4 separate regions of the Homo sapiens genome follow, and all the other regions are linked to region 1. Evidence: fine-mapped QTL for protein levels in blood plasma. A gene starts in region 1. Each other region holds a variant in brackets. All regions are shown on one strand. Distances are between the middles of the regions. Region 1 holds the start of PTGFRN (prostaglandin F2 receptor inhibitor). Region 2 overlaps PTGFRN (prostaglandin F2 receptor inhibitor). Region 3 overlaps PTGFRN (prostaglandin F2 receptor inhibitor). Region 4 overlaps PTGFRN (prostaglandin F2 receptor inhibitor).

What was found. PIP is the posterior inclusion probability: the model's chance that the variant is causal. Sun 2018 read protein levels with aptamers (SomaScan).
Region 2: its variant is fine-mapped to the plasma level of the PTGFRN protein (Sun 2018, PIP 0.95).
Region 3: its variant is fine-mapped to the plasma level of the PTGFRN protein (Sun 2018, PIP 0.95).
Region 4: its variant is fine-mapped to the plasma level of the PTGFRN protein (Sun 2018, PIP 0.95).

Annotation. Positions count from the first base shown.
Region 1 is chr1:116,906,009-116,913,593 of GRCh38, reverse strand. It overlaps PTGFRN (prostaglandin F2 receptor inhibitor), which reads right to left and starts at 3,678. Exons shown (of 9, transcript NM_020440.4): 1 at 3,342-3,678. The coding sequence starts at 3,390.
Region 2 is chr1:116,942,465-116,950,049 of GRCh38, reverse strand. PTGFRN (prostaglandin F2 receptor inhibitor) reads right to left here. Exons shown (of 9, transcript NM_020440.4): 3 at 4,958-5,371; 4 at 478-858. Among named protein-coding and RNA genes, the nearest start is that of PTGFRN, 36 kb to the right of the region's middle. RefSeq lists a silencer at 2,617-2,817. The variant C/A (reference allele first, on the strand shown) is at 2,411.
Region 3 is chr1:116,961,689-116,969,273 of GRCh38, reverse strand. It overlaps PTGFRN (prostaglandin F2 receptor inhibitor), which reads right to left. Exons shown (of 9, transcript NM_020440.4): 6 at 1,944-2,363. It also overlaps the pseudogene RNA5SP55. Among named protein-coding and RNA genes, the nearest start is that of CD101, 36 kb to the left of the region's middle. The variant A/G (reference allele first, on the strand shown) is at 4,494.
Region 4 is chr1:116,951,180-116,958,764 of GRCh38, reverse strand. The region is part of intron 4 of PTGFRN (prostaglandin F2 receptor inhibitor); the gene reads right to left. Among named protein-coding and RNA genes, the nearest start is that of PTGFRN, 45 kb to the right of the region's middle. The variant G/AG (reference allele first, on the strand shown) is at 4,912.

The DNA of each region.
Region 1 (7,585 bases):
AAATATATGCTCTGATGACAGGGCACAGACTGGCTGGCAGCACCCAGAGCACCAACAAATCTACCCCTCCCAGTCCAGACTCCTTAGCACAGCATGCAAAACCTACAGGATCTATCCCAAACCCACCTTTCCTCCCCCATTATTTCCTCCTCCCCCAAATAATTGCACCCCCATTATTTCCTCCTCCTCCCAGCTCCAGCTACAGGGAACTTACGTGCCATTTCTCAATGAGCCATGTACTTTCACTCATCCACACTTTAGGCTTTTCCCCAGAGCCCAGAATGCTCTTCTATCCTTTCTTTCAAAATTCTAATTATCCTCAAGGCTCAACTCAAATGTCACTTCTTCAGCAAAACCAGCCCCAACCCCCAAGTCAAAATTAATCATCCCCTTCCTTGTTTCCCACACTTGGTTTCCATGTCAGGTATTTCATTCAGTCCTGTGGTTAGCTATTTTATTCTCTGTCTACTCACACCCACCAGCCGCTCAGGGAGATGCTGTGTCTTTGTCATTTGTCTGGGACTCCCAGTATTGAACACACAGTTGCACACAGAGTGGCCACTCAAGAAATGCCACATTGAGTGGATGGGCAAGACAGGTCAGACATAGGCAATGGATGTGAAACCTGCTCTATGTGGCTGGGTGGGTTCTGGTGTGATCATGGTAGGTAGGCTTAGGAAGGCTTCATGGAGAAAGTGAGTTTCAAGGGAAAAAGGAAATATTAATACGCAGGCAAGAGGTGAGAAGTAGAAGGGGCCAGAAGGTTTAATATAGTCTACATAAAGGAGAGCAAACAGGTTAGTTGGAACGAAGTGTCTGAGCCAGAGAAGACCAGAGGGGAGGGACACACAAGGGGCAACATCTCCTTGGAGGAAACTCATAAGGACACAGTGAGAACAGGTGGGAGCCCCAAAAATGATCATTTAGGAAAAGGATGAGCTTAAAAGGGAGGCTGGAGGAAATAATCAACCAGGAAGACACCAACTGTGTGGGAAACAATCAGGACCTGGGCTAAGACAGTAGCCGTAGAAACAGGAAGGAAAGAAAGAAGCTGGAGTCTGTGGTACGGGGAGAGCCAAGAATTGAGAGACTACGTGAATATGGAGGTCAAAAAGAGCAGCGATACCACGATTATACCCAGGTTACACCCCAGGAGGAAAGATGATCTTGTTTATCAACATATTACATTTCAGGGATCAGTACAGTGCCAGAGCAGTGTAACACAGCGAGACCTTCCCAGAGGTCAGGCTGAAGCCACACCGAGTGAGATTCTGTGACAGCAGAGTTATCAGGAGGGTCATCAATGGTTCAGAGAACTGTTAGGTGAAAAGGTACTGGCTGGTGACACCACAGAAATTCCCTGTGTAATTCATAGGAGGCATCCAGCCAGGACAGGATATGCTGGAGTACAATCAAGATTTCCCCAAGCTGTGCTTTCCCCACTTCTATTTTGTTTTTGTCAGTCTCTCTTTGCCCCCTCCCCTCTTCTCCCTTCATTATTACTCAAGGGCATTGTTTTCAAAGTTCTACCTCATCCCACCCTCATAACTGGTACCCAGGTTGTTCAGAGAACTGCACAGCTCTAGGGGGAGTTATTCACACAGACTACAAAGTGAACAGCAGCTCCCGAAGTTGTACAGTGCACCATCTGTGCAAACCTAGGCCATGGCCCTGCTTGACCCAGACACATAAAGTCAATTAATGTGTGTGGACTATAACAGCAGTGCGCCACTAACATACAACTTACAAGGGTCCCAGAGTGAAAAGTAAAGATTAAAAGCACTACCACCGGGTGTGGTGGAGCATGCCTGTAATTCCAGCACTTCAGGAGACTGAGGTGGGAGAATGACTTGAGCCCAGGAGTTTGAGGCTTCAGTGAGCTGTGGTTGTGCCATTGCACTCCAGACTGGGTGAAAGACTGAGGCTTTGTTTCAAAAATAAAAATAAAGCACTAGGATCAGGGACTATAGAAAAGATGCCATAAAACTAAGTGGAAGATCTGGAAGCTTTCTGCACATGGGCTGAAGCTGAAGCAATGTGGCTGGACGAGCTCTCTGAGGGAGTCAGTTCAGAAAATCCCTTCAAGGTGAAGGAAGAAAACACAGCAGCCAGCAAGGCTGGTTCATCAGCAGCAGGAGTCATGGGGGTTACAGCAGTGTGGGCCCCGGTGTCCCCAGCAGGGGAGTAGCTATAGAAGGCCTCCTCTGGAACCCTCTGACCATAAGTGCAGAGTAATCATTTGCCCTGTGTGCAGCTGGGACCTGAATGGCACGGACACCGCACATCATGCGCTCTGTGAAAGACTCAGAGCCGCCTTCTCTAGGGGCTTGGAAGAGAACCCCAGGCCAGGTCACAGGAATCATCTTGTCCTGGTTGACACTGACAACAAGGATCCAAGAATATCAAAACATTTAAGAGTCGGCCCTGGGGTACCATGGTGGGCACTTAATAAACATATTTCCGTGGCTGGCTAGGATCACCATGTGGATCTACGTGAAGATGGTGTCTGTGTATGGAGTGAATGGAAAATGGAGAGGGAAAAAACCCACAAAAGATTCCTTGGGTGGGGGGAGGGCGCTGGGCCAAAACCTCACGGGGCACCCAGGGTTTCCGGAGGGTGGAAGACGAGGGGATAGTAAGGGAGGGAAAGTAACAGGTAGAAAAAGTTGGAGAAGCCAGGCTTTTAGGTCTTTGTGTATAAATACGCAGCTAGGCAGCTTCAAGAAAAGCTAAAAGAAAAGACTGAGGCAGAAGATCTAGCCACGACGAAAATGACGGCAGGACTCGCCCGCCGATTTCCATTGTAACGCTCCGGGCCACCCTGTGACCTTCGTGGAAGGAAGTTGGAGGATTCTCTCGCTTCCCTGGAAAGGCAACTCCGCGCGGGTTGGGTGAAGAGCGACCCGGCCGGCGGCGGCTATGGCGGGGCATATCAAAGGCTCACATTTCCGCTCTCGAGCCGAGGACCCGGGCCGGGACCGCAGCACCTTCCGGGCCGGGAGTTCAAGGTGAGCCGGGCTCCCGGCGGCCAACAGGTAGGGAGACCTGGGGGAAAGACGGCCCCGGGCCACTCCCCCCGGCACATGTTGGGGGCGAGGCTCGGCCTGGCGGAGCGGCCACTTGCACCCCGCGCGCGGGGCCCGAGCGGATTCGCGCCAGGCTCCGGGCGGCCCCGCGGCCGCTCCCCGCCGGGCCGAACAACCCGCGCACCCCGGCCGGGTTTCCCGGGAGCAGCCCGGGCACCCTCGGCGCCCCAGGCCGCGCGCTGCAGCCGCGCCCCGCCGAGCCCTCCAGGGCCTCGCCAGTCCCCGTGTGCCCCGCTGAGCCCCGCGCACACTCACCCAACGACAGGAGCGCCAGCAGCAGCGGCCTCGAGGCCAGGCGCCCCATGCTCGCCCGGCGGGAGCGACTCTCCCCCTCCTCCTCCTTCCCCGCCGCCTCTCCTCCTCCTCCTCTTCCAGCTCCGGCTGCTCCAGAGTCGGCGCTCCTCCGCCTGGGCCGCGCGCCTGCTCCGCTCTCCTCGCGAGCCGATAAATCCCAGCGCTGGGGCGTACGTGCGCCCCTGGCTCCGCTCGCTCCCTCCCGCCTCCTTCCCTCCCTCCTCCAGCCGGCCGGGCCCGGGAGCCGGCCCCGCCGATCCGAGTGTGCAGCCCCGACCGCTTCCCGAAAGCAGAAGGGAAGAACCGCAGCGCCCGCCCGCGCCTCCCATCCGGCGCTTTGCCAGCAACAAACACAAACTTTCCCAAGCCCCTCCCCGCTCCAGGTAACGGAGGAAGAGCCGGGGCCACCCGCTTAAAGGCGAGGAGGCGTCGGAGCCCACCCTGCCATCCCCTCTGGGCCCCCACCCCACGAGAAACTTTCCTCCGACCTTTAAAAGTTGGCCTGGGAAAGACTCGTCTGGAAATCCCATCGCTTTAGCCCTATCCCGGGACACCCCGCGTTCCATCACGCTGGAGTCACCCACGCGTGTCTAGTCTATCCTCAGCCAACTCCCCGCTCGTTCGGCCTCTCGTCCTGAGCTAAACACCCCACCAACCAGCCGCTTGGCCTATGCCAAAAATTATGCAGATAGGAGCGAAGGAGCTGAAAGGACTTTTAAAGGCCACGGATTCCAACCTCTACCATACAGAGGCCTTAAGTGTTTCGGTGAGGTGCCCAAGGATTCACAGGGAAGGGGCAAAATCAGAACCCCGCTCTCCTGACTCTGCCCACTCCCCGGTGGCTAGGGTGGGCCTGTCTCCTTCCTTACCCAGCTCCCTCCCTCTCCTCGGCGCCTGTGGCACTGATTAGAACAGCACCCCACAAAGACACCCATTTAAAAAACAAACAAAACCCAAGTGTATTAATAGCTATAGTACTTCATATAGAATGTACTCTTAAGACTTAATATTTATTGCTCTAAGTGGACACCACTGATTGCCAATAAAGACTCATTTTTCCCCCTACAATAGAGTTTTGTGCTTTTGATTTGAATACAAAAGGCCCGACTTGGTTGGGAGAAATGGAGCATTCCTTGCTTGAAACTTAGCAAGCATGATTCAAACACGCAAGGAGCAGCACTGGTGCCCACTGCCCGTCACTGGGCTTTCATTCACATGCAAAACGGATCGCAGATGCTTATGCGGAAACTGCCCACACTGGGGAAGAACACTGCTTTTACTCTCATGCATCCGTCTTTCAACCAACAAATGTTTCTTATTTCCCCACTATCAAATGTGTGATTAGCCAGGTATCTTTGGAAAGAGACTTAAAAATTCATTCCTGGTGGTGCAACGTTATTGTACTTAATGCCACTGAATGGTACACTTAGAAATGTTTAAAATTGCCAGGCCTGGTAACTGGTACTTGTAATGCTAGCTACTCAGAAGGCTGAGGTTGGGGGGGCAGGGGGAGGCGGGGGGCAGGGATGGTGTTGCTTGAGGCCAGGAGTTTTTATTTGTTTTGTCTTCTTTCTTTCTTTCATTTTTGAGACAGGGTCTCAAAATGAGGATCTGTCACCCAGGCCGGAGTGCAGTGGTGCGATCAGGGATCACTGCTGCCTTGACCTCCCAGGCTCAAGCAATCCTCCCACCTCCACCTCTCAAGTAGCTGGAACCACAGATGTGTGCCACCACACTCTCGCTAATTGTTTTTATTTTTTGTAGACACTGGAGTCTCCCTATGTTGGCCAGGCGGGTCTCGAGCTCCTGGGCTCAAGCGATTCTCCCGCCTCGGCCTCCCCAAAGACTGGGATTACAGGTCTGAGCCACTGGGCTGGCACTTTTTCTTCTTTTTCTTTTTTCTTTCTTTTTTTTTTTTATTTGAGGCTAGAAGTTTGAGACCACTCGGGCAACATTGTGAGACACCGTCTCTAAAAAAAAATTTTTAAGGTTAAAATGGTAAATTTTGTGCTATGTACATTTTACACAATAATTTTTTTAAAATTTATTTCTGCCGCCAAGCCTTTCCTGGTTCTGTTCATACACACTGTAATTCCTTTCTCTTCCCCATCCCAATTCTTCCCTAGAATCTCGCAGGGAAGTTTCCCAATTTCATTCAATCAACCTTGAATTCAAGCCTAATGTTAGGCCTTGGAAGGTAGTGGAGCTTCAGAGAAATGTGAGGCCTGGCACCTTCAGAAGCTCAGATTTCAGCTCATCCTCCATCTTTCCTTTTCTTAACCACCCAGAACGCTTAATGTTTGAACCACACATTGTGGCACTTGGTCACATTCAGTTTAGCAAAATGTATACACTACCCCCATCTCTGTCTAATAATGCATGGGCCTAAGAGGCTGTCACATTTTCACCTTGTATCCCACCTTATGGCAGAGTAGATGTTTTAAAAATTCTTTTGTTTAATAAACAATGTGTGTCAGGGACTGTGCCTAGCACATGGTAGGTCCCAATGTATATTTATAGAGTGAATTAATGGCAGACACTGGGCTAGATCCTGGGGGTACAGGGATGAAGCAGACAGTTCTTGCCCTTGAGGAGTCGACATTTTGTGCATTGTGATTGCATATGCAAGGTAGAGTTGTGACACCACAAGGGAGCGGCCAGTCCAGGAGGAGGCTGTCAGAGAAAGCTTCACAGAGGGGATGACTATGCAACGAGTCTTGAAAAATTGGTAGGTCTTTAGCTGTGGAGTGTAAGGATAAGCTTACAATAGATGTTGTGTATTTAATATGATAGAGATTCTTCTCACCTCACCCACCCCCAGGTATTATTAAATTAATGGTGTATCTTACAATCATGGAAATAACAGTGGTTAACCATTGAAATGATGAGAATAAATAAAATTGTCTAGGTAAGGCAGGTAGAATGAGGACTGAAGTGGGTAGCCTGCTGGTGGCTGGCAGTTAAATGTCATGGGAGTTAACCAAAGAGCCACTTTTGTAGCAAAAAATAAGCATAAATTAATAAGTCTAGACTGTTGGTTATAACCACCACACCCTTTGCACCTTCCTGACTACCAATGGATAAAGGAAGAAACACAGCAGACTGGCACAATTTGTTAATTCATGACTCTGGAATCTGATGATGCTTTTACTATGAAAGATATTTATTTACCAGAGTGAGTAACCTTCTATACAGGTAAGGCTTTTGCCCCAACCAGTTGTTCTCCTATCTTAGTCTATAGGCTTGCCTGGGGCAGGAAGACTCACTCTCCAGCAATTCTAATTGATTCACGCCCACCCCCAAGGAGAGTACCGACATGGGTTTCTTTTCTCCAATCATAGTGCCCCCAAGGGGCACTGGTCACAGCAGTCCGACATTATGGTCTTTTGGTCACACATGTCTTTCTGCAGGTGATACCCCTAAAACCTCACAAGAGTCCTCATACTGTTACGCCAAACAAGTTTTCCCTGCTGAGATCAGGCAAAAACATCATCATGTTATTTAACTTTGTGAATGAAAATGTTAAAAGGTTCCCAGTGAATGAAATTGCTGATTGTTCTAAGACTCACCTAGACTTGGAGTTGTTGGCCCTGCCACCTCTGGCAGCCTGTACACGCACACAGTCTCCAAATGACCCTGACCCCTACCTACTTCAGCAGGGGCTCAGGGGAAGGAGTATATTCCATGGCACCGTTTCATTCCACTAATCATTTTCACTCACAGTCTTCCTTGTTCTGTGTCCAGATGTATATTTTCCCAGTTAAAGTTAAACAGAGATTACTAAACAAAAAGAAATTTAGGATTATATTATAGAATTAGAAAATGAAATTAAAAGTTAGAAAGGGAGGGGTGGGAAGAGGAGGCCTTTATTTCCCCACGAGTGAGAGTCCTGCAATACTGGTGAGATTAGTGGGGAAGCTGTAGAATGCTCATGTGACAAGTTTGAAAACAGCAAGGGACCTCATCTGTTTGGTATGGGCTAAGCAGGGTCCTGCCTGAGGGCTGGTCCTGCTCGTCACCACCCAACTATCAATTCTCCCCATCTTTTCTTCAGCCCTAAAAGACTGAAGTGGGACATGGTGGAGAAAGTGTTCTTAAATGACTTAGAACTGTTCCAGATTCCACCTCCACCAGGCCAAAAGTGCCTCCCTGGGAAGCTACCCCACATAGCATCACGCCTGCAGGAACACTGGGGTGGAGAAGTG
Region 2 (7,585 bases), 36 kb before region 1:
TATACAGATATATTGTGGGATTCCAGGGCGTGACGTGAAAAAAAAAATGCTTTCTAATAACTGAAGGAATTATCTTTCTGCATTGGGCTTTGGAAAAGCACCAGCTCCTGCCAGGGAGCACCTAGGAGTCTAAGAGAAACAAAGGAAGAATGGCAGTGTTCTCCCTCCAACAAAGATTCATTTCAAAGAGCCATTCAGCAGTGCCCTGACCCTGCAAATGTCGACAACAAAAGGAAACTATATACTCTCAAATGAGGGTATTGAGACAACTGAGGCCACATTATCTAAACATTTCCCTTGTCTGCCAGATTCTATTTCATCCCCAGCTTGGGATCTATCTGGGCCAAAGTATGCATGAACCAATAGAAATAATGTCGAAGTCATGCAAAGCGCAGAGCCTCCTGAGATAACTCCTTCAGATAACTCCGAGGAGGGGTTAAGCTGAAGAGGTTAAGAGTCATTCTCCAAACCACTCACCTAGCCAGGTCACACCCACACCAGCTGGGGAAGACACGGCCTCTGCCACTTTGTGCCAGCTCCTGTTGTGTCCGGGTGCCCACAGGGACACGTGGCAGTAATAGTAGCCAGAGTTTTCTTTGCTAACATCCCGAACCAGTAAATGGTAGGAGCGTGCATCCACATGACTCAAAGCAACATGAGGCGAGCTGTGCACCAGGGAATCACGGTCAAGCCGCGCCAACACGCGGGAGCCAGGTAGGGTGCTGTCAGGCATCCTGCTGAAGGACCACGTCACCTCGGGCCGGACGTCATCGGCTCGGTCTGTTGTGATGTTACAGGTCAGGTCCAGTTCCTTTCCTTCAGCCACAGACACATTCTTGGGCACAGCTGCTCGCAGAACTTGAAAATTAAAAACAAATACATCTAGGTAATCTGATTATGTTTGCCCCTTCTATTCTCCACCCTCTTTAAAGCATCTCCTTTTAAGTTCTTATTTACAGCATTAAAGTTAGAAGGCTTTGTACAGTTGTAAGTGCTTGAGAAATATTTAATGAATAAATTAACAGAACATACCACATTTCTTCTTATTTTATAAAAACAACAATAGCCGCAAACATTTACATATATCTGCTATATATGCCAGGCAGTGTTCTGAGTGCTTTACATATAATAATCCTCAAAACAACCCTAAGAGGCCTAATTTTACTGATGAGGAAATTGAAGCACAGAGAAGTTAAGTAACTTGCCCAAGGTCACACAGCTGATAGGTGGCAGAGATGGAATCCAAATCCAGGCTATCTGCCTTTAGAAACTCTGCTCTTCACTGTTATGCTATCTTTTGATAAGCAGTCTATTGAAGACTGTAAAACTAAAATTATACATTCTCCATGTGCATGATGAAACTTGGGTGATTTTACAGAAAAGGAAGACTTGCTTCTGACTGGTACATATTGTTAGCTGGGGGCTAGGCAATAAGGCAGCAGAAGTGAGGGTGAAACTGTCTAAGGGATAAAAGGGAAAAATCCTAAACAGAAGGGCCAGGAAAGTGAAACCAGACAATTTTCCTTGAGTCAAGTCTTCAAAATGTAATGTACTGAGAGTATAATTTATTTCTTAGACATTCCCACATAAAAGCCAATCATAAAACATATTCTAAAACTAAAACACGATGATTTTTGGATTATCTGCACTACTGTCCTTTCTCATTAGTGTGGATAATTAAAAGTAGACTATATTTAGATGAAGCACTGAAGTATTTGGTGTCACAGACTCAAGGCAGATCTAGTTCCAGCATTCCCCTGTCAAAGCTTTCACATGGAAACATTTTATTCTATTCAGAAGATTTTAAAAGAGCATCTGTAATCTGAGTAGAAAAACATCAACTTGTGAAATGTCCGGGAACAATTACTTAGATGACAAGTACCAAGCACTTCCCAGGGGATTCAAGCAGAGGCACAGCCCTGGCCTTCTAGCAAGTCGCTGGCATCAACGGCATGGCGCTGGCCCCAGTAAGCTCAGGGACCCAATTCAGAAAAGACCAACTCCAAAGCCCGTGCTCCTTGGCGTAAATTACTTTCATATGAATATGTCCAAAGCCTGACAATATTTCAAACAAATATTTCAAGTCAAGTTCAAGATCCAGCTAGACAGAAGACAGAAAATAAGGTGGGCACAGTATTAGAAAAGGCAATTTAAAAGTTCAATTTCTCCTTCCACCTAGTCTCCTAATTCTTTCTCTCGATCATCTCTTTAAAAGGGCCAAAAGTAGCCTGAGGGTATCATTTGTGAGGACTAAGTATGGAAACTGCTGCCCTGAGCCAGGCTCTGCAGTTTGAACCATTCTACAGTCAAAGCTTGTGGCCAGAAACCCTGGAATCCTGCTGGAGTCACCTCTGCCAGGACTTCAGCTACTGGAAGTAAAAGACGACTCAGGAGGGAGTCGGGTCAGTGA[C/A]GAAGTACTTAACAAGCAGCTGTGGACTGTATGGATGGAGAAAACAGAGTCTCAGGTTCAGAAAATATTGGCAGGGATGTCTCTTCAGCTGTGTAGTTCACTTTGTAATTTTCTCTGTGCAAGTGGCTCAGTATCTTGTCACATCACTAACCAGAGGTCCCACACATTCTGGATTTGGGAGTTTACTGCTGAGAGACAGGATGGAGTAGGCTAAAGGGAAAAAAAGGACCAGTTCTAAGTATTTGTAATGAAAGAAGGGACCTCAGGCAAAGCCTGTGGTGGGGCAGGTTCTCTGTCCCTGAATATAACTAAATCCATAAATCAGACAAAGTTTGCAGCAACCAGACCACTCCCATGACAGGGAGGAGGGGCTGGGGAGGAGGCTCCCTGCCACATGGGTAGCACAGCTTCACTCTGCGCCATTTATCATAACAATGTGATAAGAATATATAAGCAGCCAGCTATGGATAGTGCAGGTGTGGACAAGAAGAGAAGGACCATCAGCCTAGTGTGACAGTTCTTAGCCTGGGATCCACAAAGAGAATTTAGAGTCTGTGAACTTGGATGGGAAAAAAACTCCATCTTTATTTTTATTAATCTGTACCTGAAATATAGCATCTCCTCCCACTGTGAAAGTAAGCAACAAACCAGTGTAGTATTACCTGTGTCTGGAACTACCCCAAATAGAAATCACATTACAGTTGCTGCAGATATCCTGAAATATCATGTATACTCATTACTATTCAGAAAGTACAGTTGTTAAGCCTGCCACTATCTTATTATCAATGCATTAATAAAGCAGCATATTACTACAAAATCAATTTGCTTTACAAGTATTTTGATAACGATTTCTATATAATTATTTTCCTTTGTCATCTTGTGTACTGTATTTTATGAATTAAAACATGTTAATTCTGAGAAAAGGTCTGTAGGTTTCAAAAGGCTGTCGAAAAGTCTCATGGCACAAAAAGATTATGAACCCTGTCTCATCTGAGAGCCAGATATTACCTGCCTAATAAGTTCAGTGTTCAAGTCTCTTAGCTAGATATTATAGGTCTCATGGTGTGTTTGAAACAAAAAATGTCTTTACAATTCAAATTCTTCCAAAAAAGCGTAAACTTTCTACACAGCTGAAACTCTTAAGAGTTGTTTGATGCAAGTTTAATATCTAGAGGTTTCTTAGGGCAGATTGCAGAGCGATCACTTCTGATCAGGAAGGTAACCTAAGTCCATCTGGAAAGCGATTTCTGCAGCCAGTGGAGCCCAGACTGACCAGTAATGAGCAGCTCCTCTCCTCAATGGCCATAGTCACTCAAGAACCTCAGACCTGCTTTTCCACCACCCACTTTTCCAAATCCAGGCTCTGTGCTGTGGTGTAAGTGCAGAGTAAAGAGCTCAGGACAATGCACCTTCAGAGACAAAATATTCCCCCTGCGTGTTGTTTCCTGCTTTCCTTCCCATCTGAGTAACAGAGCCACCACATATTCACATTCATGCTCAGGAAATGAGTGCAACAACCAAGGTCTTCCCAGTTTAAAAAACAGAAGGCAGCAGCAACAGCAGCAAAGTACTCTGAGATCTGAAGATGTCAGACTTGCAGAAAACCAAGGACATCCACTCATCCTGAGCAATGACATTGCCCTTCCTTGGTCTCTTTACACTGTCTCTGTGAAGCCTAAAGCTCCACAGGGCCTGGGAACAAGCCTCAAATACCTCTGACCCAAGGGCCCAGAACAGAGCTGAGCACACAGTAGGTCCTCCATTGATGCTGGCTGGACAATGAGTCAACAAGACCATGTTTTCCTTTTATTTTTATGTGTTTTCTAAAATGCATGTTGTATTTTCTTAATTACTTCTATAATTGCAGTAGAGGGTTTGAAAAAAAAAAAAAAAAAGCTGATTCACAGACGACAGGACAAAGGGCTTCTTGTACAGACCCCAGGACTGGATGCTCCTGTGGTCTGTATGATACAGGAAAGCAAGAAGCGGCCCTGCCCTAGAGAGCTCCTCCCCCTTCCAGGAAAAGCACATCTGAGGGGACCGAAAGGCAGGCCTAGAGGATACAAGTTAGATGAAAGGTTTTGGGATGAGCCAGGCACACACTCCAACAGCTGCAGAGAAAGGCACGTCAAAGGACTCAGGAAACATCAAACCCGATAAAGTTTAGGGGCAGGGTGTGGCACCTTCACCCCAAAGCTCCACTGAACACCAAGTCCTACCTAATCTGGCTGAGGGACCACAGCACCTCAACTCTGAGTGAAAGATCTGCCTTCGTGTTATGTGCAGGCTGTGGCTTTCCATGGACATGAATTTAGATAAAAGCAGCTGCGAAGCAAAACGACAGGCATCCTCAGCACAAAACAAATGTAACCCCGCCCACCTCCAACCTCTCAACACCCTACTCCCTTCACCCCTAAAAATAAGGCCTCACATGGGAAGCAGAAACAGTTCTTGTCAGAAGGCCATGGGGCTCCCTGGCCCGGTTCTTTGTATCACTATCATTAGTCACAAAATAACATCACCTATAACGCATCGTTTCCAGCTCACCTGATGGCTGGATCACCACGGTGGCAACTTCCACGGCCTTTTCTTGGATTTCCTGCCAGTTGCCCTGCTCGGCGATCCACTCGCTGACGATACACCTGTAGGAGCCCTGGTCGGCAGACAGAGCCCGGGACACTGAGAGGCGGTAGGCGTCGCTGCCCACGGTGTCGAGGCGCACGTCCCCACTGTGGTAGCGCTGCTCGTACCCCAGGCCCGGGTGGAACCTGCCCTCGTGGGTCAGGGCGAGGACGCTCCGCCTGGCCGGGCCGCGGTGCACCTCCCACAGCAGCGCCAGGTGCGTGTGCAGCGGCGAGGCGGAGGCGGCGGTGCAGCGCAGCTCGAAGGGCTCCCCCTCCCGCAGGCTCAGGCTCGGCGGGGGCCGCGCGCTGGGGCCCACGTGCAGGGAGTCGGCCAGCACTGCGGAGAGAGAAAGCTAGGTCAGTAGCCCGTCCACACCGACCCCAGCCGGCAAGGGCCAGCCCACCGCTGCAACCACAGACAATTTCCTCCTCCCTTTCCCATTCCAAGACCCGGATGGGCACGTTTTCCCAACTGGATTCATCTGTAATCTCAATTGACTTTCTGACTTGAAAAAGAAAAATAAAGGTACCAAAAAAACCCCATGCTAGAAGTGGGTGGTAAAAACTCCCTGTGGGAGTCGTGCCTTGGGGATGTGATGTGCTTCTGCTACCCTTAAGGCAAGTTACTTTACCCCTCTGTGCCTCAGTTTCCTAAAAGGAGGATGACAACTGGACCTTCGTCATAGAGTTGACATGAGAGTTAAGTTAAACAGGGTAAGTTCCCAGGACCGTGCCTGGCACTCAGCTGTCATGATAAATCATTGGGTATGACTGTCAAACATTTCTTTGCTTAGGACCAGGGCTAGGCTAGGGAGCCCGCAGAATCTGCAGATAAGGTGACCTTCTAGACTTAAAGTAGCAAGATCCACAGGGGAGAAAGGATGGCATGAGCTGCCTGTGGCTTGCAGCCTGGGGAATGCCCAAGAATGTCTAGGGTGAACACAGCATATCCACATGATAGGAACAGGCCCAGACACTTCTACAGAGTCTAGAAAAAGGGGACGGCGATCAAGGAAGTATGGGTGGTGTACTCAGGAAAAAAGCAGTAGATGGATACTGCTATTCTGGTAACCAGAAAGGGGGCCACTACCAAGCAGCAGGGAAAAATCTATCAGGCTTATCCATGAGCTGGCTAAGAGGACCCTCCAACACCACTATTCATCATCTGTTTTTTTTTCCCCCCAATTCCATATTCAGAAACTAATTCAGTGTCCTTGAGAAGGGGCTATTCTAGATAACATTTAAAAGCTGCTACATTTTTAGGAGGACACATCCTGAAGACCCATCTCTACTGCAAAATAAATATAATGACCTTCTAGTATATGTATCAGTCTGTGAGTCTGGCTAATATGACTCAGTTCTCAAGGCCAGCTCATCTCTCAGAGCACAGATGAATAGTTTCAAGAGCCATGAAGCTGAAGGCCGGGCAGATCCTGGACCACACATGGCAACCATCAGAGGCTCCACCTGGGCAGCAGTCAGTCTCTCTCATGGTCATCCATTGCTTTCCTCACCCAAGAAAGGCCTCCTCTTGTGTCTCCTGCCTTCCAAAGACAGCAGAAGAGGCTGAAAGATACTGGAGGAAGTGGGGTGCGGGTGGGGGAATTCTCCCCTTACTCTCCCTCCCACTCAAGAGGAGACTCCAAGGGGATACAAGGGGGCATCTGGCTTAATGAAAAAGTGGCATGTGGCAATATTTAGCTCCAATACAAGAGTGTCTTTTTCTAAATAACATGTTCTGAATTTTCTATAGGAATAAAGAGGTAGATGGGGTGTTTCATTACCTCCTTAATGGACAGTTTTATCCCCTGATGAGTCTAGTGAGGGAACAGTCTCTGAGCTATGGCAGGGTTCTACAAGTCATGAGGGAATGAATGCCTCAATCAACCCTCGCTTTTTATATCATCATGTGCATTTTCTACTTTCTGATAATTACATACATTCTGACCCAGACATAAATCCTTTTGGGAACAAGGCAGGGTACAAATAAATGCATAATTAAGTAACAATAACAACAATTATAATGTTTCTATTTTCTTAGCCCCAAATTAAAATGGTTTGTTCTTGCTCGTTTACTAATTAGCTGTGTGATTTTAGGAAAGTAATTAACCTATGCTCTTCCATTTCCTCATGTATAAATTAGGGAAATATTCTGCCCTATTTTGATTGGGTTCAGAGAATTGAATGTGTGAGTAAATCTAAAAGGACTTGGAAAATGAAACAAACAAACAAAACCCCCAAAACAAATCCCAAAACATTCCAGGTACATAAGGTGTAATATTTGCAAAGCTAGGTCAATAAGCTAGCAGAGACCACATTACATATAACACATAAAACATCTGGTACAAACAAGTACTTAAATCATGAAAGCCACAGAGAAAGACATGAACTTTGAAGTGCCTGTGATTCCCATAAACCTGAGCATCATTAACATGACCATCCCCTTCCTGTCACTAACCACTGAATGCTTACATGGCACTGCTCTAAGGCTTTACACCTGGTAACTCAGCTGTCCTCACAACCTTTAAGGTTACAGAGGAGGAAGCTGAGG
Region 3 (7,585 bases), 56 kb before region 1:
AAAAATTAACATGAATCATAGCCTAAAATGTAAGACCTAAAACTATAAAACTCTTAGAAGAAAACATAGGTGTAAATCCTCACAGCCTTAGATTAGGCAGTGATTTCTTAGACATAGCAAAAACACAAGCAACAAAAGGAAAAAAAAAAAAAACAGATAAACTGGACTTCATCAAAATTTAAAAATTTGATGTTTCAAGAGACATCATTAAGAAAGTGAAAGACAACACACAGAATGCGAGAAGATACTTTCAAATAATAATGTTTACGGCAGCACTATTCATAATAGCCAAAAAGTAGAGATAGTCTAAACGTCCATCAACAGATGAACAGATAAACAAATGTGGCATATCCATACAATGAAATATTATTCAGCCATGAAAAGGAATGAAGTACTGATACCTGCTACAACATGAATGGACCTTGAAAACATTATGCTAAGTGAAAAAAAGCAAGTCACAAAAGTCCACATATAATATGATTCAATTCATATGAAACACCCAGAAGAGGCAAATCTATAGAGACAGAAAGTAAATTAGTGGTTGCCAGGGGCAAGGGCATGGGGGCATGGGAATGATTACTAATGAGAGTGGAGTTTCTTCTTGAGGTGATTAAAATGTTCTGGAATTAGATAGTAGTGATAGTTGCACAACTCTGTGAATATACTAGAAACCACTAAATTGTACACTCTATATATAGTAAATTTTATAGTATGTGAGTTATATCTCAATAAAGCTGCTATTAAAAACAAACAGATACACAATAAAGGAGGCCTATGCTTTCTCCAAATCTAAGGGCTTAAATCAATATTTACCCTTTAATTTAAAGGTCAAGAGATCTTAGAAGATTATTTCACTATGGTATATATTATATACCATAAAAGGCTATAATAATAGAAAATAATATTAATAGAAAAACTTTATTAGAGTCTAGCTTACCTTTAATATAAATGCTAATCATTTAATTCAACAAATATCTTGCATTCATTGTATGATTCAATTGACACCTGAATTTTTACAGATAAGTATTAATTTATACATTCAGAAATTTCTAACTAAAACCCAGGAACCCAGGGCAGAGTTAGTGAAAACACTTAGTATTAAACTCACAAATGATAATCCTTTGCATTCATATTCTAAATAAGATTGGGGTTTAAATACTTTTAAATCATCTTCCTACTGAAACACACACATACACAGACAGAGGATGTTAAAGATCTTCCACTTTGGCAAGTCATTTAACACCTTGGGAGGCTCAATTCCCTCCTCTCTTTCTTTATACTCCACTATGTTCCCTAAAGTATTTGAAGTAGCTGAGCTTCAGCTCATTTTCTTAAAATGAAAGCAGAAATGAAAACATACATTCATCAAAAATTTGTACATGAATGTCCACAGCAGCATTATTTGTAACAGTCAAGAACTGGAAACACCCAAATGTCCATCAACTGATGAATGGATAAACACAATGTGGGATATCCATACGATGGAATCTTATTCAGTCATAAAAATGAACAAAGCACTGATACATGCTACAATATGGATGACCCTTGAAAACATTTTGCTCCAAAAAAGAAGCCAGATAGAAAGGCCACATATTATATTCCATTTATGTGAAATGTCCATAATAGGCAAAATGTATAGAGACAGAAAGTAGATCATGGTTGCTGCAGAATGGGAGGTGGGGAATGGAGTGTGAATGGAGGGTATTGGCTAAGGGGTCCAGGTTTCTTTTGGGGTCATGAAAATGTTCTAAAACTGGTCGTGGTGATGATCACACAACTTTGTGAATATATGAAAAGCCACTGAATTACACACTTTAAACAGGTACATTGTATGGCATATGAATTGCATCTTAACAAAGCTGTTTTAAAAAATGAGGGCATCTGATCAAAACCCTAGGGTCTCTTCTAGCTCCACCTATGATTCAACAGGGCTCACTGCTCACCTGAGGTTTGGAAGTCTATCTCAATAGGATTGGAGAGACTGGTTGCTGCTTCTCGCCAAAGGCTGCCCCTGACAGGAGACCAGGCTGTCACCATGCAGCGGTACAGCCCTGCGTCTGAGACCTGAGTCTGGTACATTCGATAGCGGAACTCATCCTCCTGCACTTTTTCTAAAACAACGCCATCCACCCGTGATGCATCTGTCCAATTCTCCAGCTTCACCACAGAATCCTGGTCCAGAGAGATGATGTACTTCGTTTCATTGGGACTGGAGAGGTCGCCGACAGGCTTCTCAGCCATGATGAGAACAGAGTAGCGTGGCGACTTAATATTCTTGGAAGATACTTTGCAAGTCATCTCAAATGTATTTCCGGCAGCAAAGAAAGGCTTTGGCTGCCTCGCCTTCACCACAAGCACGGAATCTGGAATGAATGACCAGAAGGATGTGATTTCCAACAAGATCAGTTAAAATAAAAATGCAACTAAAAGCAAAATAACCAAGAAACAGAAATGTATTTGCAAATTGCCACACAAAAGCACCTACGAAAATCTGGAAACTCAGAAAGAAAATCATGTGTATCTATAAGCAGGCTAAAACCACCCCATTGAAAGTAATAGTCTGAAATGAATCAGTGGGTGTCAGGAGAGAGGAAATTATGGTGAGAACTGGTTTTAAGGATTTTTAAGTCCTTAAGAAGTTTCACCAGGAAGAATCTGGGAACCCGCTATTGGTGCTCCAAAAGATGCAAGGCAGAGGACACTCCTATAAAGGTGGGAAAGACATGGCTGAACACAACACCATGACCTCCAAGCCAGGCTCCTGGCCATACCATTTGCCTCTCCTCCCCAGGGGTCTGCTAAGTGCAGGGGAAGTGCCCCTAGCTAAGCTAGCCTGCAGGGAGGAATGCAGCAAGGGAGAAATGAATTCTCCCTGTTTAATCATATGATAGTGACATTACAGAACAGATGTATTGCTAAAATGACTGTAGCGTATGTATTTGCAGATCTAATAATTTCCACTTGCTTTACACTTTAATTTCAGAAATGCTGTTTAAACATTTTGAGAGGTGTCTATGGCTACGCTAACTTTAGGTTTAAGTGGATTACTCCTTGTGTCTCTGTCAAAACAACAATGCCTATGCATGTACACATTAGAATTCATCTATTATAGTAGCACAACGTCAGGCACTTGGAAGGTGCTTAAATATTTGTTGAGTGGATGAATAAATGAATTAGATACATTCTTTTTATCCTTTAATAAGATGATTAATCCTATAATCCATCCAGTTACAAGATGAGATTTTTACGTTAGATTTTTTGGAACACTTGTTCCACCAAACCGATTAGCAGAACATGTATATTAAGAACTCTCTCCAGAACCACTGACTGCTGAGCTTCTACTGAGCCACCACATTCTTTCTTGATTTTCCTGTGAGTTCGGTCATTCATTCATCAATTTAAACATATATTTATTGACAGCCTTCCATACTGCAGGTACTGGAAACATAACGGTGAACAAATAAATACAAAAATCCCTCCCTTTATATGCCAGTGAAGGAAGACAAATGAAATAAACAAATAAAATATATGGTATGGTTATATGGTGATAAATGTTTAAGAGATAATAAGCAGCCAAGGAAGAGAAAAAGCGTGGATTTGTATTTGGAAGGAAGGTGTGTGTGCCACAACCGTAAATAGAGTGATCAGGGACATCCTCACTGAGGAGGCAACATTTTAAAAAGAACCTGAGCTGGGTGTAGTGGCTCATTCCTGTAATCTCACTGATTAGAGAGGCTGAGGCGAGAGGATTGCATGAGGCCAGGAGTTTGGGATCAACCTGGACAACATAGCAAAACCCCGTGCCTCTAAAAATAAAATTAAATAATTAGCCAGGCACAGAGCATGTGCCTATAGTCCCAGCTACTTGAGAGGCTTGAGTCCAGGAGTTTGAGGCGACAACGAGTTATGATGGTGCCACTGCACTCCAGCCTGGGTGAGAGAGCCTGGGTGAGAGAGCAAGACTGTGATTCTAAAAAAATAAAATTAAAATTAAAAATAAAATAAATAAAAAGGACCTGAAGGAGGTGAGGGAGCAAGTCCTATCTATCTTGGGAAGAGCATTCTAGACTGATGGAACAGCAGGCAGAAAGCTACAAGGCCGGAGCACACTTGGTGTATTTGAGGAGCCTGGAAGGGCAGAGTGGCTGGATGGAGTGGGTGCTGGGGAGGGTGCTAGGTGAGGCCAGAAGGTAATGTGACCAGTTGGTACAGAACATCTAAGACCACTTAGAGGACTCTGGGTTTTGCTCTGAGTGAGATGGGGAGGCTTTGAAAGTTTAGAGTGAAGGAGTTTCAGGACCTGACTTATATTTAACAGGATTGTTCCAGCTGCTGTGTGCTAGGGCAGAGCAAGGAGACGATCTGGGAGGCCAGGGATGTAATCCAGGCAAGGGTGGCGCCATAAATGGCAGAGTGTGAAAAGTAGCCAGATTCTAAGTCAATTTTAACAACGAGCAGTCAAGGATGAAGGTTTTGGGCTGAGCCACTAGAAC[A/G]ATGGTGCTGGAGAAAGCTGGGAGAAGAGAGCTGGCAGATGTGATGGGAAGCGTCCTTTTGAACAGAAGCTTGAGATGCCTGTTAGTCAAGTAGTGTCAAGGAGGCAATGTAATATTGAGTCTGGAGTTCTGGAAAGAGGCCTGGGGTAGACATGTAAATCTGGAGTCACTGGTTTCTAGATGGTATTTAAATTGATGAGATTAGAGACATCACCAAGAAGGTGAGGTTAAATAGAAAAGAAGTCCAAGTCCAAGGACTATGTCCAAAGACTATGTCCTGAGGTAGTCTAATGTTTCCGGGTCCAAAAAATGAACAGAAGCCAGAAAAGGAGGCTGAGAAATGGCTAATAAAGTTGGAAGAAAGCCCTGAGAAGGCAGTGTCCCACAAGCCAAGGGAAAAACCAAAGCATTCCCAGGAGGAGGGAATCACCTGCGTTAAATTCTGCTAAGTCAAAGAAAATAACTGACAATAGGATTTTCCAATATGATGATTACTGGCCATCTTACCACAAGCAGCTGAGGGGAAAGCCTGATTTGAGTAGGTACCAGAGAGAATGGAAGGAGAAAAACCAGACACACTGAGTATATATACGTCAAATATTGTTGTTATAAAAGGAAAAAGTAATAAGTAGACAAATGGGTGTGGGAAACAGAAAGACGGATGAAGAAGGAAGATCAAGACTAGCATAAAAAAGGGGGGGCGCCCGGCACGGTGGCTCATGCCTGTAATCCTAGCACTTCGGGCGACTAAGGCAGGAGGATCGTTTGAGGTCAGGAGTTCAAGACCAGCCTGGACAACACAGTGAGACCCTGTCTCTACCAAAAAAAAATAGCCAGGCATGATGATAGAGGCCTATAGTGCCTCTAGTTCCAACTACTTGGGAGGCTGAGGTGGGAGGATAACTTTAACCTACCTAGGAGGCTGAAGCTACAATAAGCCATTATCATGCCACTGCATGTCAGCCTGGGTAACAGAGCAAGACCCTGTCTCAAAAAAAAAAAAAAATTAGCTGAATGTGGTGGTGAGCACCCGCAGTCCCAACCGCTCGGGAGGCTAAGGTGGAAGGATCACTGGAGCCCAGGAGGTCAAGGCTGCAGTGAGCTACAATCACACCACTGTACTCCAGCCTGGGCAACAGAGTGAGACACTGTCTCTAAAAACAAAACAAAACTAAAACAACAAAAAATACCACAACCCTCACTCCCCACCCCCTCTTAAAAAACCCAAGGAAACCTGGATCTAACAGCACATTGACAGACCAATAGGAAAGGTCCAGAAGGGAGAGAATTACCAAAGACATAAGAGAGAGCAGCCATGGTCTAAGTAGTGAGAGGGGCTGGCCTCTGCCAGGACATATGCCACGTGACCTGGTCTCAGCCCTGGGGCAGCGTGAATGGGAATTCTCCTGATTATTTCTACTTTTAGGAGAATAGGAAGCAGGGCCAACAGCTGAGAGAGAAGCTGTGGGAGGAGGTTTGCAGAGACAGAAGGTGGTATGCAGTAATCACTTAGGAGAGTGGGGAAATAAACAGACTAAGGAAATGCAGAATAATTCCCACGCAGTGCCAAGAGCCCACTTGTCACAAGTGACCACTACTTTAAAGGGAGACCAGTCAACATGTTTGAATGTTTCTCTCCAACCACATTAGCTCTGTGGGCACAGGTAGGGAGGCTGCAGAAAGCTGCCTTTGAACTGGGTTGTGGTTTGGCCACAGTCTAATGCAAACCGAGAGGGGAAGGAAGCTAGGGGTGTATGCAAGGGAGTGATTAAAACTGACTGGGAATTTAGGCTAGGTAATAGTAGGTGACCACATAACTTACCCCTACCTCCCAGCCTTAGCTCTGAGAATGAAAGAAGGTGCTATCATAATGTACACCATTCCAGGTGTACGCTGGACTACAAATGGGCACCCTAGTGAGAGAGACGTGAAGACACAATGGCAGTGAAGGACGATGTCAGGTGGTAGGATTAACAGATTGTTGGCCCCAGTAAGGTTGGGGGATTGTTGCTGGAGTACTAGACGGAGCGGTACAGAAAGACAGGAGATATGTTTAGAGAACAGGATGCTTGAAATTGAGACTGTGGAGGGGTTTCAGTTATCAGAAGGGAGACGGTCTAATGTAGCATATAAGCATGTAAGTGTAGGACCAAATAGGATAGAGGACATGATGACTACAGAGAGGAGGACAAGCAACTAAGAATGACAGGATTAACTGTATTAGAGTTCGCCACCTTGGCTGCACATGAAAATCACTGTGGGAGCATTTAAAAATTCCAGTGCCCAGAATGCATATACTTCAGACCAACTAAAATAGAATTTCTGGTGGAACCCGCCTGATCTCGTCTGATCTTGGAAGCTAAGCAGGGTCAGGCCTGGTTAGTATCTGGATGGGAGAATTTCTGGTGGGACAAAGCACCAGCATTTTTTTTAAGTTCCTAGGGGGCTTCCAATTGTGACCCAGTGCTCTACACAGATACTGAAGTTAGCAAGATGGGAGCAGTGTCAGACAGAGTGGCCGTGAAACAAACGCTAACATCTTCAAAGAATGAACGGAGGACCTAGGAGGCAACAGGCAATAGTAACAAGAAGAGGTGGTATGGTGTGATGATGACACGAGATTCGAAGCTAGATATTTTTAGGAGTGAGCGAAAACGACCTGGAAGCTGCAGGGAGGATCAAGAAGGGCACCTGCCCCACACCTCTAGGCCCAGTTATGAGAAGTGTGGGAAGAAAATGGGCATCACTTAGTTGGGCTCTGGGGGAAACTGTCCTCAGAGAGGTAACGGTTTCTCCAGGGGAAAGAGTGTCCTCAGAGTCACCATGTTTAATGCAAGAAAGAGAAAAGAAACATTCAGAGGTAAAGTTCAGGAAACAAGAGACTTGGCTGATTGACAGTGAGTTGGAGAGGGACCTCTCTGGGGCTTGGGGACAGAGGAGGGGTGATAGTGAGTCCAAAGAGCATGTGCAACGGGTCGCATGGCGATCAATGTCCAGGACACACATTCCTAGTGTAAGTGATAACCTGCAGAGGGTGACTGTGCATCAACACACAGCGGCACGACTTAAGCAAAGACAAAACAAAAATGAAT
Region 4 (7,585 bases), 45 kb before region 1:
ATCCTGGTTCTGCCACTTACTTGCTATTGACCTTGGGTAGATTACTCAGATCTCTGGTGCCTCACCCATACAAATGGGGATGACAGTAACTAGCTCATAATGTTATTGTGAGGGTTAAGAGTTAAAATATACTGTACTTAAAATGCCTAGACTGGTGCCTGGTGTGTGTGTGTATGCAGGTACACACATATTCATATACACATACACGTGTATATATTTGTGATCATTATTCACAGTTCCCATTTCTGAGGGGAGAGCTTTAAAGAAGTTAGTGACTTGGCCACACAGTTCAAAAGTGGCAGATGGGAACGGAGCCCTGTCTTCTACCACCTTTCAAGTGCATCCTTAGCTCACAGATGAACCAAACCTACTGTCTTCTAAACTTCATATTTTCTAAGTTCCACTGACTGACACATGATTTTTAGGAACGCTGAGTGCAGTGCTGCCATGACACTAAGTTACTGCCACAGGGAATGTGACCCAGAAGACAGCTCCCTGCAGGCCCTCGCCTCAGCCTGACTGACCAGTGTGATCCAAAACACCATGAAGTTGCCTGTGGGGACTCCTCTTCTGTCTCCTCACAGGTGACAGACCCTTTGATCCTTAATGGTTTACTTCCACCCCCGTGCAGATTCTTTCAGAGTGGCACCTTTTCAAAGGCTGTCAAAATTATGATGAAAGATGGTAGATGTTCATTGCAGCATTATTCACAAGGGCCAAGATATGGAATCAACCCGTGTCCATCAACAGATGAATGGATTAAAAAAATATGGTATATATACACAATAGACTACTATTCAGCCATAAAAAAAAAAGAACAAAATCCTGCCATTTGCGACAACACAGATGAACCTGGAGGACAGTGTTAAGTGAAATAAGCCAGGCACAGAAAGACAAATACCACATAATGTCACTCGCATGTGGGAGGTCAAAAAGCTGAGCTCATAGAAACAGAGAGTAAAGTGGTGATTACCAGAGGCTGGGGGATGGAGAGGGGAGAATGCTAGGCAAAGGACGCAAAATTTCAGTTAGACTGGAGGAATAAGTTCCAGAAATCTATTGTACAACATTGTGACTATAGTTAATAACCATGTATTGTATACTTGGAAACTGCTAAGAGAACAGATCTTCGACATTCTCAGCACAAAAAATTATAGGTATGTGAGGTAATGGATATGTTAATTAGCTTGATTTAGCCATTCAACAATGTATACATATTTCAAAACACCATGTGGTACACCATAAACATATATAATTTTAATCTGTCAATTAAAAAAACATGTTGGAGTGACTTGACTGACCTATTAGTGGTCAGATCACAGAACACACAGAAAAGGTGGTCAAAACTAGCTCCTGTGCCAATCACCTGGGCAGCTCTCTCTCTCCTCCCACTCCCTGGCCTGCTCACACCCCAAAGCTCACTCCCCCAGACATGAAAACCCAGCTCTTCCTTAGCCTCCAGACCCAAACACTGGCCTGAGCTGAGGTCTGGGCATTCTAACTGAGCATCCATGGCGTCTTTACTACAGCACGCTCACAACCGAATTCACCTCACTCCACATCTGCCTCTGCAAACACACAAACACAAACACACACACACACACACACACACAGCGAGCCAGCGAGAGAGAGAGAGAAAGAGAGAGAGAGAGAGAGAGAGTTAAAACCTTGTTCCAAACACAGCCAGCCCCACCTCCAAACTTTTCAACCACTCCTGCTACCACATTCCCGCCACTCATTCTCAAGGTCACTCAGTGTCAAAGGTGTGCCATCTTCAACGCTCTCCCTTCCCTTCCACCTCTCCACTCTGAGGGTTCCTAAGTCTCGCACATTCTACCTCCTCAGTGTCTCTTCCATTTCTTTGTTCTCAGGCCTGATGCAGAGTAGACACTTTATGAATATTTGCAAATAGAAGTGAAAACCTCATGAAGAACACCTTCACCCTGGCCCTCACTCCCTCTAGCCAAGACTATAATAACAACCTCCCATTGCCACTTGACATGACTGACATGACTGCTTGGGCATCTGCTCCATAAACCTCCCATGGCTTCTTCCCTCACCTACTGAGTTAAGAAAATGCTCCCCAGCCTGGCATTCGAGGCCCTCCACTGCGTGCACCCAGCCGCAGCACCCACTGCCTTCTCAACTCCACTCAGATGGCACCTCTCACCATTCCCTAGCTACTCCTATGCTCCGCCTTCCTTCCTGCTGCTCTGTCTGCCTCAGCACCTGGGCCACCTGCTCGATAAGTAGTTTAAATAATGACTGAAGAGATTCTTTCATTCTACTCCATTCTCCACCCTGAAATCAATCTGTTTGAATCCTACATACCCAAACACAGCGGAATGAGAGTACGGGGGACTTGCACAATGTGTGCATCTAGCTATAGGAATTCCAGCTTGGAAGGAAAGAAAAATCTCTTCATTGACCTCAACAGTTGGTCTCTTCATTTTCTCTTAAAACTAACCTTAGGCCTCAGAAAAGGAGGCCTCAGTTTTAATGCAAAGGCAAACAAAAATAAGTGGATTCTTGGCTTGTGAACTTACGAGGGGCAGGTTCATTTGAGCTATCCACCAGCCTTGTAGCTCAACTTTAGACTTACACTCCTGGAGAAGATATGATTCCACCATGTCAGAATGGTAGGAGTAGGAGCAGGTTCTGATTTCGTTTTTGTTTTGGTGCATGGACAGAGATTGTCCTTTAACATTGTTTTACAATTTTAAAAATGGTTTGCAGAGATTGTGCCCTTCTTCAAGGCCTGTCATGCACATACCTCTTCTGTGTATCCTCTCCTACTCAACGGAGAATGCCTCCTTTGAACTCACATGTCACACTCCTATTTCGTATTCAACAAATCCCACCACCTGCCAAGCTCCCTGCTCTCTAAGGGTTTTATGTGAATCCTGCCTTGAACTTTGGTTATTCGTATGTATGTCTTATGGGCTTTCCACAGGACTCTTCCCAGGGCCAGGGACTGCCACCTTGATTCTCTGTACGTGCTGTGCATGCAGTGCCTTGTACATAAAAAATACTAACATACTGGCTGAATTGAACTAAATTTAATATTTTGCATTAAAATGCTCATTTTGGGCACAGGCATTTCACCACTGATTACTGCTACATTCTGCTTGATCTCATCAAGAAATCAGCTAAGAATGCAATGGTGGTTATGTTTAAAAACTGCTTATCATTAAAGATGCATACTAAAGTGTTTAACAGTAAAATGACATGATGTCTGGGATATACTTTATACTCTTCTAGAAGAAAAAAGTGTGTGTTTTTGTGTGTGTGTGTCTGTGTGTGTCTGGTGTCTGGAATAGGGAAGAGAGATAAAATAAGATCAGCAAAATATTGATTATTGTTGAAGTTGGTGGTTATTTCTTCAACTGTGAATATTTGTAAATTTCTATTTTTAAAAGTTAAAAACAAACAACAACACACACTGTAAGCCCTCTCACAGAATACTGAGGCCAGTCCAAGTGCAGCATCACTAACGTTCTGAGAAGCAGGGATCTGCTCCCTAATCTGGATGCCAGGAAGGTGTCTGCTCATGTCCACACCATCTCCCAAGCTATGCACAGACTCCAAAAGAGTGACCCTCCCCTAAAGAAAGGCTTTAAAAATAATGGCTCATTAGACTCCTTTGTCACAACTTTCAAAACAATAAAAAGCCTTCAGAATCACTGGCTAATTTGTAAAAACAAGTATTGTGGGCCTACTATGTGCAGGAGACTGATCTAGAGATTTTCATACAAAATACCTCCTTTTACTCTCATGACAATTTTGTAAGGAAGGTATTATTATCCCCATTTTACAATAATAATGCTAAACAACGAGCATTTATCAAGGGCTTTCCATATGCCAGGCACCACACTATATACTTTCCTTGCATTTTCAATTAATCTCCATAACAACCTTGTAAGATTGGTACTATTTTCATGTACATTTCCAAATGAAAAACAAACAAAAAGCAAAAGTTAGAGGAGCTAAGTTAGAAGACTAAGGCCTTGCAGAGTGTGTGAGAGCAGAATTATAGGACAGGCTTTGGCTCCGTGGCCTGGCTCCTACTATGATCAAATTGTGCAACCTCCTTACACACCAAGGTTATTAATCTTTCTCAAAGCCTGCTACGTCCCGGAAGACAAGAGTGATGACAACAGCTGAAGCACTAATCCTGAACTGTGTACAATAGGACCATGTTCTAATACCCCCTCTGAAACTTAGTTAACTTGGCACAGCTAATTACATGAATGGCTGCATGCACCAGTTAGAAGAAACAGAAGGAGTACTCAGCCTGTGCTGATGACAGGGTTTTATTATTTTGAATTGGGTAGGTACTTTAGAGGCAGCTGAGCATATTGACCAATCGTCAAAATGACACCACGATCACCATTTGTATAACAATTAAATATTCACCGACATTTAATGAGTGAAGGCTACAAATAAGGAGCTATTGTTGTTGGGAGGGGGTGGGAGGGGAGACTCATTACCTTACTGTGGCAGAACCATTATGAGGATGGATGGAGCACTAGCCATTTCAGAGCAATAAAAATAACATCATTTGAATGCAACATCTATGCCCTGCACCCAAAGAAATACTCATGAAGGGCCAGGCACGGTGGCTCACACCTGTAATCCCAGCACTTTGGGAGGCCGAGACGGGCGGATCACCTGAAGTCAGGAGTTTGAGACCAGCCTGGCCAACGTGGCGAAACCCTATCTCTACTAAAAATACAAAAAAAAATTAGCCGGGCATGGTGGCAGGCGCCCTGTAGTCCCAGCTACTTGGGAGGCTAGGGCAGGAGAATCGCTTGAATCTGGGAGGCGGAGGTTGCAGTGAGCCAAGACTGCACCACTGCACTCCAGCCTGGGCGACAGAGCGAGACTCCATCTCAAAAAAAAAAAAAAAAA[G/AG]AAATATTCATGAAGTTTTTCTTTCTTCATCCTCATTTGCTCCTCCCAGAGAAGGAAAAGTGAATTACTAGCTTTGAGAGGGATGAAAAGGGCTGGGTGTGGTCAGCTCAACCCCTTTCTCTAGCTCCTCTTAGGAGCAGCTGCTTTTAGGACACACATGTTCCTAATTCCTCTATGCTGGGCTCCTCCATGCCCTAAGACAAACTCTTAGGTCTTAATTGGTTAAGAACTTGGTGGGGAAGACCCTCAAACACTAACAAATCATCATCGCCACCACCAAGAAAATGCAGTGAGCATTTAAGAGCCAGGCACTGTACTAAGCACTTTATATGCATTATCATATTAAACCAGGAAACCAAAACTTACTTGGAAATGTTCATCGACACACCCGAGGCAACATACCTAGAAGGAGGACTAACACATGTCTCCTGACTCCAACACTTGGCCACGTGCACTTCTGCCTTCCAGAATAATCTTGGACAGACAGCTGATATTAGTTATCCTTAAAAAACCTACAGGTCTAAATCTTATCGCCTATAAATGGCCCAGAACTCTAAAGTTTCTACCAAGTACTTAGCAGATTAACAGCTCTTTTAAATAAAATAATTACCTTCCTTGCTGGCACACTGCTGAAGAGGGGCCAGTCCTTCAGTGGGGAAGAATGCAAATCAGGTTCTTAAGACTGAACAGCAGAACTCAACTCTGCCTCCTCCAGCTCTTATATCCAAAGCCTGTGGAACCCCTTCCAATTAACGCCACAGAAGTCTGGTACTTCGGGCAGAGTTCAACCATGAACTGATTAGTATCCAACTCTTGCCAAAGGCTCATTTAAGACATCTGATAGCAGAAGGAGATGGCTTAATGTGCAGATTAACTAGCCATTCTGCTAGGTTCTCTGTTTTAGACATATACTAAATTGGATCAACACAAAGCATCATTTGTCCCCCATAGTAATTGAGCTTCTTACAGAAACCCTTCACACACTTAAGATTTATGTCCTCAGCTTTTATAGAGGGTGGATATAAGAAACATCCATTTAAACCATCATTTAGGGCCTTTTGTAAAAGAACAGTTGAAAGCCCTGTCTATTATCTTTTCCAATGCCCCAAAATGAAAAAGCACATGATAAATTCAATGCCAAGAGAAAGTTTGTCTTGCTGAAAGAGTTAATGTTTTCCTTCCTCAGAGGAGAACTGTATAATCACATCTTTTTTTTTGTCTCAACTCTTCAGAACTTCAGAGGCAAATTCAGTGCTCAAATATAATAACTAATTCATACCAACCACCTTGCAATATCTATTCTTCTTTTACCCTTTTGATCTTGATTTTATGTCTCCTGCTTTAAACTGTACCTCATTTTGCAAGCCAACTTAAATCTTTTTTTTCTTTCCCTTTAAAGTAGGACATACATTCTAAGTAAAAGAGGTTTTTTCTCAACATCTAAAACATTATCATGATCCTCTCAGTGGCTGCAAGTGCTCTGGACTTGCCAGGCCCATTCATGTCATTGCCCCGTCTTCCTGCTTAGCACAGTGGAACTCTAGAAGACCCCAATCAGCTTCAATCCCCTCACCTAGCTCAGTACACAAGCCCCAAGCAAATGAAGACAAGAACTACCCAGCTCTTAGGACTATGCTCTGGAGTTTCAGGAATGAAGCTGAGTCCCAAGGCCAAAAATATTTTCACATTGAACATTTAATGCATATAAGGTCCTTAGTCCAGTGCCTGGCACACAGTAGATGCTCAATAAATGGTAATTATTCATTTTAATCTGTCAAGTGGCAAAACTGAGTTTTGCATTTTACCTGTGTAGCAAACCAACTCTCTCGAAAACTTTTCTGTGACAACATTCCAGAGTTACATGACCTAAGACCACCTATATCAACAGAGTGCTTGTCAGGTTGTCTGTCTATCTTTTTTGGTCACTTCTCGGTTACCTTATATTGGTCCCAAGTTGTATGTGGTATGGTATCCGTACGCATATACATGCACATTACATATCTAGAGACAACCATGGAGTGTCAGGCCAGGCTCACTGGCTTCTGGACAGAGTCCAGCGGGGAAGTCTTTGAGAAGGGTCTGCTGCTATGCTCATGCCCTACCCGCTCCTGACAAGTGTCCAAGCAGCTGTAATGGTCTGAGTCATAGGCACAGGGAAGGAGGAGAAGTCTTAAGAGGAAGAAAAAAAAAAGAATGCAATTGTTTTTCATACTACTCGCTCTTTCGTTAGGTTTACTCAGGGGCAAATATCTCTGAATATCCTAGGAGTTGAACATTACTGCTTTCTTAGCAATTCTAGCTTTCCTATGCACATATTTTAACAAAATCCATGTGTGGGTACTGGTTTATTTACCCGTTCAGCTAATATTTATTGAGTGCTTATTACATGCAAAGCAGCAGGGAAGGTGCAGGTTCTGTATCTGTTAGCATCAGTCAGGAAAAGCACACTGATGACTTTCACAATGGTAGTAGCACTCCAAAGGAAAACAAATGACGGGATCCTTTGGATAGTAACTGAGCCTTTTCCACAATTTAGTCTCTTTATTTCTTTTCACTCTCTGGAGAACACAGCTACCAACAAATCCCTTCCAGTTAAAGGAGCCCATTCCTCCTAGAGCTCCGCTCCTGTTGTCTGACAGTCCCTGCATCTCCCCCCGGGTATGCCGGGATCAAT